4 separate regions of the Homo sapiens genome follow, and all the other regions are linked to region 3. Evidence: fine-mapped expression QTL. A gene starts in region 3. Each other region holds a variant in brackets. All regions are shown on one strand. Distances are between the middles of the regions.

Region 1 (2,679 bases), 930 kb after region 3:
GTGTGAAGGGTGAAGGGTGGTGTGCATACAGCAGGTGCTCAGTAAAGGCCTCACCTACCCCGTGAGAATCAAAGGAGAAACAGTGGGCCCCACTTCCTCAGCCACGCACACAGAGCAGGTGTTCCGTGCGCACATGTGGATGGTGTGTCTACCCGCCCGCCGCCGCGCCTGCTCTCCGGAGCCTCCGAGGGGATCCGTATGTAACTCAATGTGTGACCACCCCGAGCTGGGGCCCCTCGGAGGGACACTGTTGAGGGAGGTGGTTTTTTTAGTTTTTTGTTTTTGCTTGTTTTTTGTTTTTTGGACAGAGTCTTGCTCTTGTCGCCCAGGCTGGAGTGCAGTGGCGTCACCTCGGCTCACTGCAACCTCCTCCTCCAGGTTCAAGTGATTTCCTGCCTCGGCCTCCCGAGTAGCTGGGATTACAGGCACCCGCCACCACGCCCGGCTAATTTTTATATTTTTATTTTTATTTTATTTTATTTTGGAGACAGAGTCTTGCTCTGTCACCCAGGCTGGAGTGCAGTGGCGCAATCTCAGCTCACTGCAAGCTCTGCCTCCCGGGTTCACACCATTCTCCTGCCTCAGCCTCCCGAGTAGCTGGGACTACGGGCGCCCGCCACCACGCCCGGCTAATTTTTTGTATTTTTAGTAGAGACGGGGTTTCACTGTGTTAGCCAGGATGGTCTCGATCTCCTGACCTCATGATCCGCCCACCTCAGCCTCCAAAAGTGCTGGGATTCCAGGCGTGAGCCACTGCCCGGCCGGGAGGTGGTTTCGGGTTCTGCCTCAGCCAAGGGCAGTCGCAAGCTTCCTTTTCCATCCTGCGCGAGGGGCGCACGAGATGGGGCCTCTGCAGACACCTGGCCCCCACAGGTGGGAGGCATCAGTTCATTCACAGGCGCGTTGTGGCGTCCCCACCTGCCCTCCTACCACCACCACTGTGGGAGCCCAGCACCCCTCCCCCACGCTGGGACCCTCCTCGCCACTCCCCGGCTGGCACCAGTGCCCTCCCTGTCCTGGCCAAACTGAATCCACAATTTGTTCTTGGGCGATGTGTAAATTGGCACCTCATTGATTATTAATGAAGTGCTAATTGCTCTTTGAAACCAATTTTGATGGGGATACAGCTGTGGCTGTTTGTACAATTTCTCAGACATGGCTTTCACAGCTGCTGAGACCTGGGGCACGGGCCGGGGGGCAGTTTCACAGTTTACAAGGCCTCCACGCTGAAGGACGGCAGAGCAGGCTGAGCACCCCTGTCCCTTGGAGGTGACCACGACACCCGCCTTGTCCTCGGGAGAGGGAAGAGGAGGCCCACAGGGCAAACCGAGACGGACTTGAGCACCATGCCTGGCTCCCTGACCAGGCCACCATTGCCCCGGTGACCCAGGCCCGTCTGCAGCC[TGGGGAGGGGAGCCC/C]ACATCAGTCTCCCTGGACTCCAGCTCTGGCAGCTGACACGAGGCGGGGAGGACTGAGGGCCCCGCTGCCTGGGTGCTGTGGCCAGGAGGGCTGGCTGGGCCCTGAGCTGGGTGCCGCTCCGGGCACTGGGGCTGACGTGGTGGAAACACGAAGCCCAGGCCAGACGCGGGATGGCGGTTGCCTGGGTGCACCCGGTGGTTGCCTGGCAACGGGGCTCAGGGACCATCCCCAGCAGAGGGTGGCTCTGGGGACCGGCTCCCCGGGCACAGGGGAAGGAAGCAGTGTCAGGCGTGACTGAAGGCTGGAGAGCAGCTTCTGTAGAGTCGTAGAGACCGGGGTGGCTGCAGGACCCCCGAGGTCCCCCGCCCCCTGTCTGGAGCCCAAAGTCCCCGTGTCAGAGCCACACACGTCGGCCCCGGAGGAGAGGCTGCCACTCTGTCCCCTGACCCGTCGGTGCCCAGGGAGGTGGGGTCAGGGCTTCCTGTGGGGAGCAGACAGTCGGGGTGCAGGCCTGGAGCAGGACCCTGGGGGTGGGGCCACAATGTTGGAGTTTTCGGGCCCAGAGTGAGTCAAGGGAGAAACAGTGGGTCCCACTTCCTCGGCCGCAGGCACAGAGCAGGTGTTCCATGCACACGTGTGGGCGGTGTGTCCACCTGCCGGCCGCTGCACCTGCTCTCGGGAGCCTTCGAGGGGATCTGTGCGTGGCTCAGGAGCGACGCGTGACTTCCCCGAGCCGGGGCCGTCAGACGGGCACTGATGAGGGAGGCGGTTCTTATCCTTTCTCTGCCAAGGGCAGCTGTAAGCTTCCTTTTCCATCACACCTGAGGGGTGGAGGAGGCGGGGCCTCTGCAGCCACTTGGCCTTCTGGTGTCTAGGGGGGTCCCCTCTGTCCCCCCAGCTCCCTCTCCTGGCTCCCTGCGGCATAGGAGGCTCTGAGGGTGACCCGCTCAATCCCAGAGGCTGCAGGGCAGGGTGGGAAGGTCTGTAGCAGGGGTCCCTTCCTGGCTTCACACTCCCAGGCGTGCGAGGTCTACGCGGGGCCCTGTGTGTAGACCCCTCCAGCGTCAGGCAGGGAAGAGTCACCCACCCCGGCCACATAAACCGACAACCAGCCACACAGTTGAACGTCAACAAAACGTTGAGGTCTGCAAGGTGAGGACCCTCAGGGCCCAATCACGCAGCGGGACACAGTGGCCCAGCCATGCTGCTGAGTTGGGGGTTCTGAGAGGCTGGCAGGAGGTTCTCCCCACTGAGGCCTGA
Region 2 (2,679 bases), 45 kb after region 3:
GCCTGGACAACATAGCGAGACTTCGTCTCTACCAAAACAAAACTGAGGCCAGGCATGGTGGTGCACACCTGTAATCCCAGTCACTTGGGAGGCTGAGGCATGAGAATCGCTTGAACCCAGGAGGTGGAGCTTGCAGTGAGCTGTGATTGTGCCACTGCACTCCAGCCTGGGCGACAGAGTGAGACCCTGTCTCAAAAAAACAAAAAACAACCCTGCAGCCCAGCTCCTGTTTCCTGGAGGAGGAAGCAGCTGCCAGCCCCTCCAGGGAAGGCGGGTCCTGTGCTTCTCCTCCACCTGTGCCTGCAGGACCCTCTCCCTGTGCGGGGAGGGGCGGGGGCTCCACTGGAATAGAGGTTTCCAGGCTCTCCTCTATTTCAGGGAAACCCCGTCTTGAATGGGGACCTGACGGCCTCTGTCCTTGTCCCTGCTGCAGGAAGACACCCCCTCTCCCAGGCTGACTTCACACAAGCCTTGGTTCCTTTTGTCTTCGTTCCTCTCGGAGGCAGAGGGGCCTTCCCCCTGTGCCTGAGATGTCCCTGGGATGCCCCCGGGGATGTCTGGAGCAGGCAGTGGGATCTTTTGAGCCCTGGGGTTGGAAACCTTCCTTTGGAGGCGATCTGCATTGCCAGCAGAGGAATGTGGCAGGACCTGGGAGGGGCGGTGGGCAGGGGTGCAGTGGGTCACAGGTGGGCAATATCCCTGTTCTGGGGGCAGGACGTTCCCTGTGGCCTTCCCACAGGTATCATTCTCTGTCACTTCCCGGCCTCAGTTTTCTTGCTTGCTTTCTGTTTTTAGAGATGGGGTCTCACTATGTTACCCAGGCTGGCCCTGAACCCCTGGGCTCCAGCGATCCTCCCGCCTCAGGCTCTGAGTAGCTGGGACTACAGGCACGCACCATGCTGGGCCTCAGGTCTTTTTTTTTTTTTTTTTTTTTTTTTTTGTAAAATGAGAGTTGAGTCAGATGATCTTTAAGGCATCTCTGAAACCTGAGAATTCCTGGACACGCAAACAGCTGCATATTAGGGTTTCCCCTTGTATCTCCTGGGTGGCTCCTGACTTTAAGGCACGGCTTTGCCCAGGAGGCCTCTTTCAGATGAGAGGGCTCCGGTGCCAGGGGCTGGGCCTGTCCCTCTGCCCAGCAGCTCCCTGGGCTCTGGTGTCCCTGGCGCCATGGATGCATTCCCAGGAAGGAAGACACTTTTGCCCTGTTCTATTGCGTTTTTGGAAGCTACCAGGGTCTCAGGTATCTCTGGGGCTGACGCCGCCCCGGGTCTGTGGATGGAGGGGCCGTTTCTCTGCAGAGCCGCCCCTGGTCTGTGGATGGAGTGGCTGTTTCTCTGGAGAGCTGCCCCCCGTCTGCGGATGGAGTGGCTGTGCCTCTGGAGAGAGGCTGCAGGTTTGTGGTGCTCCTGCTGTGAAGCCAGGCTGTCCTGTTTGGTGAGAAAAACATCTAAGGGAGAGTCAAGAGATTGCAGAATACTAATGTCAAAGCCAACATATGGAAATGTGTTTCTCCTGAGGAAAGACGACCTCC[C/T]GCTCCACAGTGACCCATACCCCACAGCAGCTTTCTTGCTGCTAGTAGAAGAGGGTGAAGCTGTGTGTTTTCCTTTTGCAGGATGTGCAGAACAAGTTAAAGGAGTCAGCACAGTGCGTCGGGGACGAATTCCTGAACTGTAAGCTGGCTACCAGGGCCAAGGTATTTTTCTTTTTTTTTTCTTTTTTTTTTTTTTTAATTTATTTTTTTATTGATCATTCTTGGGTGTTTCTCGCAGAGGGGGATTTGGCAGGGTCATGGGACAATAGTGGAGGGAAGGTCAGCAGATAAACAAGTGAACAAAGGTCTCTGGTTTTCCTAGGCAGAGGACCCTGCGGCCTTCCGCAGTGTTTGTGTCCCTGATTACTTGAGATTAGGGAGTGGTGATGACTCTTAACGAGCATGCTGCCTTCAAGCATCTGTTTAACAAAGCACATCCTGCACCGCCCTTAATCCATTTAACCCTGAGTGGACACAGCACAGGGTTGGGGGTAAGGTCACAGATCAACAGGATCCCAAGGCAGAGGAATTTTTCTTAGTACAGAACAAAATGAAAAGTCTCCCATGTCTACTTCTTTCTACACAGACACGGCAACCATCCGATTTCTCAATCTTTTCCCCACCTTTCCCGCCTTTCTATTCCACAAAGCCGCCATTGTCATCCTGGCCCGTTCTCAATGAGCTGTTGGGCACACCTCCCAGACGGGGTGGTGGCCGGGCAGAGGGGCTCCTCACTTCCCAGTAGGGGTGGCCGGGCAGAGGCGCCCCTCACCTCCCGGACGGGGCGGCTGGCCAGGCAGGGGGGCTGACCCCCCCCCACCTCCCTCCCGGACGGGGCGGCTGGCCGGGCGGGGGGCTGACCCCCCCACCTCCCTCCCGGACGGGGCGGCTGGCCGGGCAGAGGGCCTCCTCACTTCCCAGTAGGGGCGGCCGGGCAGAGGCGCCCCTCACCTCCCGGACGGGGCGGCTGGCCGGGCTGGGGGGCTGACCCCCCCCACCTCCCTCCCGGACGGGGCGGCTGGCTGGGCAGAGGGGCTCCTCACTTCCCAGTAGGGGCGGCCGGGCAGAGGCGCCCCTCACCTCCCAGACGGGGCGGCTGGCTGGGCGGAGGGCTGACCCCCCCACCTCCCTCCCGGACAGGGCGG
Region 3 (2,679 bases):
ATGAATGTAGGATGCAGTAAGTGAGTGAGTGGGTGAATGAATGAATGCAGGATGCAGTGAGTGAGTGACTGAATGAATGCAGAATGCAGTGAGTGGGTTGGTGAATGAATGAATGCAGGATGCAGTGCGTGAGTGGGTGAATGAATGTACGAAGAAGCAGTAAGTGAGTGAGTGAGTGAATGGATGAATGAATGCAGGATGCAGTGCATGAGTGAGTGGGTGGATGAATGAATGCAGGATGCAGTGAGTGAGTGGGTGAATGAACGTATGAAGAAGCAGTAAGTGAGTGAGTGAGTGAATGGATGAATGAATGCAGGATGCAGTGCATGAGTGAGTGGGTGGATGAATGAATGCAGGATGCAGTGAGTGAGTGGGTGAGTGGGTGAATGAATGCAGGATGCAATAAGTGAGTGAATGAGTGAATGCAGGATGCAGAGAGTGAGTGGGTGAGTGGGTGAATGAATGAATGCAGGATGCAGTGAGTGAGTGGGTGAGTGGGTGAATGAATGCAGGATGCAGTGCGTGAGTGGGTGAATGAATGAATGCAGGATGCAGTGAGTGAGTGGGTGAATGAATGAATGCAGGATGCAGTGAGTGAGTGGCTGGATGAATGAATGCAGGATGCAGTGAGTGAGTGGCTGGATGAATGCAGGATGCGGTGAGTGTGTGAGTGGATGAATGAATGTAGGATGCAGTGAGTGAGTGGGTGAATGAATGAATGCAGGATGCAGTGAGTGAGTGGGTGAATGAATGAATGCAGGATGCAGTGAGTGAGTGGGTGAATGATTGCAGGATGCAGTGAGTGAGTGAGTGGCTGGATGAATGCAGGATGCGGTGAGTGAGTGTGTGAGTGGATGAATGAATGTAGGATGCAGTGAGTGAGTGGGTGAATGAATGAATGCAGGATGCAGTGCGTGGGTGAGCGAATGAGTGGGTGAGTGGATGAATGAGGAAGTGCGAGTCAGAAAACCCCAGTGTAACCGGTGAATGAGCGAACAAGGGCGTGACTGGGCGAGGAGAGATGGGAGTGAATGAGGGTGCGGTGGGTGCAGGCTTGCGCCTGAGGTAGTGCACCTGCGAGTCCGGAGGTCCAACCTGAGGGGAGGTAACCTGCGCCACCAGCAGGCTCCGTGTCCACGTGGACGGGGAGGGGCATGTGGGCGTGGCTAGGCGGGTTGTAGGCGTGGCGAGGCCGGGCGAGGAGCGCGGCGGGCCCGCAGGGGCGGACTGTGGGCGTGGCGCGCGGGGGAGGGGGCGTGACCAGGCGGGGTGTGGGCGGGGCGAGGGCGCGGCGCGGCAGGGCTGCGCGGCCGGGTGGCGCGGGAGGAAGTCACGTGGGAGCGCGGGCTCACATGACTGGCCGCGCGATGGACCCGCTGCCCGCGGCTGCAGTCGGGGCGGCAGCTGAGGCGGAGGCTGACGAGGAGGCGGATCCCCCGGCGTCAGGTAGGGCGTGGGGCGGCGGTAGCCCCCACCTGCCCAGGGCGCGCGGCCCGACCACCCCCGGCGGACGGGGCTCAGCCGCCGCGCTTGGTCCCCGACTCGTTTCCTGCCCCCGCGCCCCGCGTTCGGCCCCACGCCCCAGTCCCTCGGAGGTCCCCCTGCCCTCCTGCGCGCCTGTCCTTTGGGGGTCCCCGTGCTCTCTCGCGCCTCCGTCCCTCGGGGTCCCCTGCCCTCCTGCGCCGGGAGAGCCCTGTCCAGGTTACAGCTGGCCGCGTTCCGAGGCGCTTTCCCGGGGCTCTCAGAGGCGTCCTCGGGGACAGTTTCCTCCTCGCCCCGTTCCTGGTGCCCTGCTCTTCTGCCCTGCCTGGTCACGCTGAGCGATGGCACTGGGGGCCACTTCCCCGGACTTGGGCGCCTTTCCTAGCCACATCCTCTCTCCCAAGCTCCTGTCGGTTGTGTGGTCTTGGGCCAGTAATTTCACCTCTCGGGACCTCTGTTTTCTCATCTGTGAACCGAATCTATAGATGTGTAGCTGCTTTTCTCTCTCTTTCAAGTGATCCTCCGCCTTAGCCTCCCAAAGTGCTGGGACTACGGGCGCGTGCAGTTACGCCCGGTAATTTTTTTTATTTTTGTAGAGATGGGATCTTGCTATGTTGTCCAGGCTGGTCTGGAGCTTCTGGCCTCAAGCGGTCCTCCTGCCTTGGCCTCCCAAAGTGCTGGGAGTACGGGCATGAGCCATCGTGCCTGGCCTGTATTTCTGTCTTTTTCTTTTTTCTTTTTCTTTTCTTTTCTTTTTTTTTTTTTTTTGAGACAGATTCTCACTGTCACTCAGGCTGGAGTGCAATGGTGCGATCTCGGCTCATTGCAACCTCCGCCTCCCGGGTTCAAGCGATTCTCCTGCCTCAGCCTCCTGAGTAGCTGGGATTACAGGCATCCACCATGACACTCGGCTAAATTTTGTATTTTTAGTAGAGACGGAGTTTCACCATGTTGGCCAGGCTGGTCTCGAACTCCTGACCTCAGGTGATCCAACCACCTCAGCTTCCCAGAGTGCTGGGATTACAGGCGTGAGCCACCGCGCCTGGCCTCTTGTATTTCTCTTTAAGGGATTTGGGTTAATGAGGCTAAACATGGCTGGGCACGGTGGCTCACGCTTGTAATCTCAGCACTTTGGGAGGCCGAGGCGGGCGGATCACGAGGTCAGGAGATCAAGACCATCCTGGCTAACACGGTGAA
Region 4 (2,679 bases), 22 kb before region 3:
ACTTGTTTTTTTTTTAATGTAATAAAGGGGTTGACTCTGTGATTCTTTAACTAACATCTAAAATTGACCCTGAGCTAATTAATTCTCAATCTTTCATGTTTTCTCGTATTTGCATTTCAGATTATACGTTTCCCTCCAGGCATTGCTCTCTGTCTGCTTCCCTTGAGTTCTGATAAGTAGAACTTTCATTGTCAATTTCAAATAGTCTGTAATTTTATTATGGATTATTTTACATTTCCAAATACATTGGAGATTTTTGGCTAGAAATGTATTACTGATTTTTATTAAAGTGTAATTTACATAAGGGAAATGCACAGACTTTTGTTTTGTTTTGTGACAGGGTCTTGCTCTGTCACCCAGGCTGGAGTGCAGGGGTGCAATTACACAGCTCACTGCTACCTCTGCCTCCTGAGCTCAAGTGATCCTCCCTCCTCAGCCTCCCAACTAGCTAGGACCACAGGTGCGTGCCATCACGCCTCACTAATTGTTTTACTTTTTAGGGTCTCCTTGTGTTGCCCGGGCTGGTCTCGAACTCCTGACCTCAAGTGATCTGCCTGCCTCGGCCTCTGAAAGTGTGGGGATTACAGGCATGACCCGTCACACCGGGCTGGAATGCACGGATCTTATATGCTACAAATTAAAGAATCTTCACAGCTACGCACAGTGGTGTGACCCTTATCAAGAGACAGAACATTTCTGTCACTGGCAAAATTCCCCCACGCCCTCCTCCACAATAGGCAACCGCTATACTGATTTCTTTCTTTTTTTTTTTTGAGACAAGGACTCAGTCTGTCACCCAGGCTGGAGTGTAGTAACGCAGTCTCGGCTCACTGCAACCTCCGCCTGCTGGGTTCAAGCGATTCTCATGCCTCAGGCTCCGGAGTAGCTGGGATTACAGGCATGCATCACCATGCCCAGCTCATTTTTTTGTTTTTTTAGTAGAGATGAGGTTTCACCATGTTGGCCATGCTACTCTCGAACTTCTGACCTCAAATGATCTGCCCTCCTTGGTCTCCCAAACAGCTGGGATAACAGGGGTGAGCCACTGTGCCCAGGCTTATTTATTTATTTTTTTGAGAAGGAGTCTCGCTCTGTAGCCAGGCTAGAGTGCAGTGACGCAATCTCGGCTCACTGCAACCTCC[G/A]CCTCCCGGGTTCAAGCAATTCTCCTACCTCAGCCTCCCAAGTAGCTGGGTTTACAGGTGCGCACCACCATGCCCAGCTAATTTTTTGTATTTTTAGTAGAGAAGGGATTTCACTGCGTTAGGCAGGCTGGTTTCAAACTCCTGACCTCATGATCTGCCTGCCTTGGCCTCCCAAAGTGCTAGGATTACAGGTGTGAGCCACCACGCCCAGCATTTTTTAAAAATTTGTTATTATTGTTATTTTTGAGACAGGCTGAAGTTGCCCAGGCTGGAGTGAAATGGCACGATCTCGGCTCACTGCAAACTCCGCCACCCAGTTCAAGCGATTCTCCTGCCTCAGCCTTCTGAGTAGCTGGGATTACAGGCCTGCGCCACCATGCCCGGTTAATTTTGTATTTTTAGTAGATATGGGGTTTCTCCATGTTGGTCAGGCTGGTCTCGAATTCCCTACCTCAGGTGATCTGCCTGCCTCAGCCTCCCAAAGTGCTGGGATCACAGGTGTGAGCCACCGTGCCCAGCCCTTTTTTTTTTTTTCTCGAGATGGAGTTTCACACTGTCACCCAGGCTGGAGTGCAGTGGTGTGATCTTGACTCACTGCAACCTCTGCGTCCAGGGTTCAAACAATTCTCCTGTCTCAGCCTCTCAAGTATCTGGGATGACAGACGCCTGACACCATGCCCAGCTAATTTTTAGCAATTTTAGTAGAGATGGGGTTTCACCATGTTGGCCAGGCTGGCATTATTCTGATTTCTTTCACCACAAATTAACATTCATTTTTCTGAAATTCCATCAAGTTTTGCCTACTGTAGAATTTTTTTTTTTTTTTTTTTTTTTTTTGAGACAGAGTCTCGCTCTGTCGCCCAGGCTGGAGTGCAGTGCCGCGGTCTCGGCTCACCGCAAGCTCCGCCTCCCAGGTTCACGCCATTCGCCTGCCTCAGCCTCCCAAGTGGCTGGGACTACAGGCGCCTGCCACCACGCCCAGCTAATTTTTTTCTATTTTTAGTAGAGACGGGGTTTCACCGTGTTAACCAGGATGGTCTAGATCTCCTGACCTCGTGATACGCCCGCCTCGGCCTCCCGAAGTGCTGGGATTACAGGCGTGAGCCACCGCGCCTGGCTACTTTCACTCAGCATATTGTTTCTTTCTTTTTTTTATTGAGATGGGCTCTGGCTATGTTGCCCAGGCGGGTTTCGAACTCCTGGCCTCAAGCAATGTTCTCGCCTAGGCCTCCCAAAGTGCTGGGATTACAGGCGTGAGCCACCACGCCCGGCTAGCATGCTGTTTGAGAGGCTTCTCCTTGTTGCCTGTGTCTGTAGTTTGCCCCTTTTTACTGCTGAGTAGTATCCATTGTATGAGCATAGAACAATTTGTTTATCCGTTGGCTGTTCATGAACCTCTGGCTTGTTTCCAACATCTGGCTATTTTTTTTTTCTTTTTTCTTTTGAGACAGAGTCTCACTCTGTTGCCCAGGCTGGAGTGCAGTGGCATGATCTCAGCTCACTGCAAACTCCGCCTTCAGGGTTCAAATGGTTATCC

Direction of the effects. Positions count from the first base shown, and alleles are read on the strand shown. Sizes are in standard deviations (SD) of each study's normalised expression. Not every link is listed here.
In carriers of allele C in region 2, the expression in subcutaneous fat of the gene that starts at base 1,333 in region 3 tends to be lower than with T alone (small effect, 0.19 SD a copy in GTEx).

What was found. PIP is the estimated chance that this variant, and not a neighbour inherited with it, causes the effect. A credible set is the group of variants that fine-mapping cannot tell apart.
Region 1: its variant is the best candidate, but not a certain one, in a credible set for the expression of SNX8 in esophagus mucosa (GTEx, PIP 0.79).
Region 2: its variant is the best candidate, but not a certain one, in a credible set for the expression of SNX8 in subcutaneous fat (GTEx, PIP 0.71).
Region 4: its variant is the best candidate, but not a certain one, in a credible set for the expression of SNX8 in whole blood (TOPMed, PIP 0.65).

What each region holds. Positions count from the first base shown.
Region 1 is chr7:1,385,631-1,388,309 of GRCh38, reverse strand. No RefSeq gene overlaps it. Among named protein-coding and RNA genes, the nearest start is that of MICALL2, 72 kb to the left of the region's middle. The variant TGGGGAGGGGAGCCC/C (reference allele first, on the strand shown) is at 1,405.
Region 2 is chr7:2,268,576-2,271,254 of GRCh38, reverse strand. It overlaps SNX8 (sorting nexin 8), which reads left to right. Exons shown (of 11, transcript NM_013321.4): 5 at 1,616-1,696. Among named protein-coding and RNA genes, the nearest start is that of MIR6836, 12 kb to the right of the region's middle. RefSeq lists an enhancer at 588-1,198. The variant C/T (reference allele first, on the strand shown) is at 1,535.
Region 3 is chr7:2,313,095-2,315,773 of GRCh38, reverse strand. SNX8 (sorting nexin 8) reads left to right here and starts at 1,333. Exons shown (of 11, transcript NM_013321.4): 1 at 1,333-1,446. The coding sequence starts at 1,353. RefSeq lists enhancers at 228-728, 729-1,229 and silencers at 1,048-1,317, 1,418-1,657.
Region 4 is chr7:2,335,103-2,337,781 of GRCh38, reverse strand. It overlaps a transcript of SNX8 not described here. Among named protein-coding and RNA genes, the nearest start is that of EIF3B, 18 kb to the left of the region's middle. The variant G/A (reference allele first, on the strand shown) is at 1,143.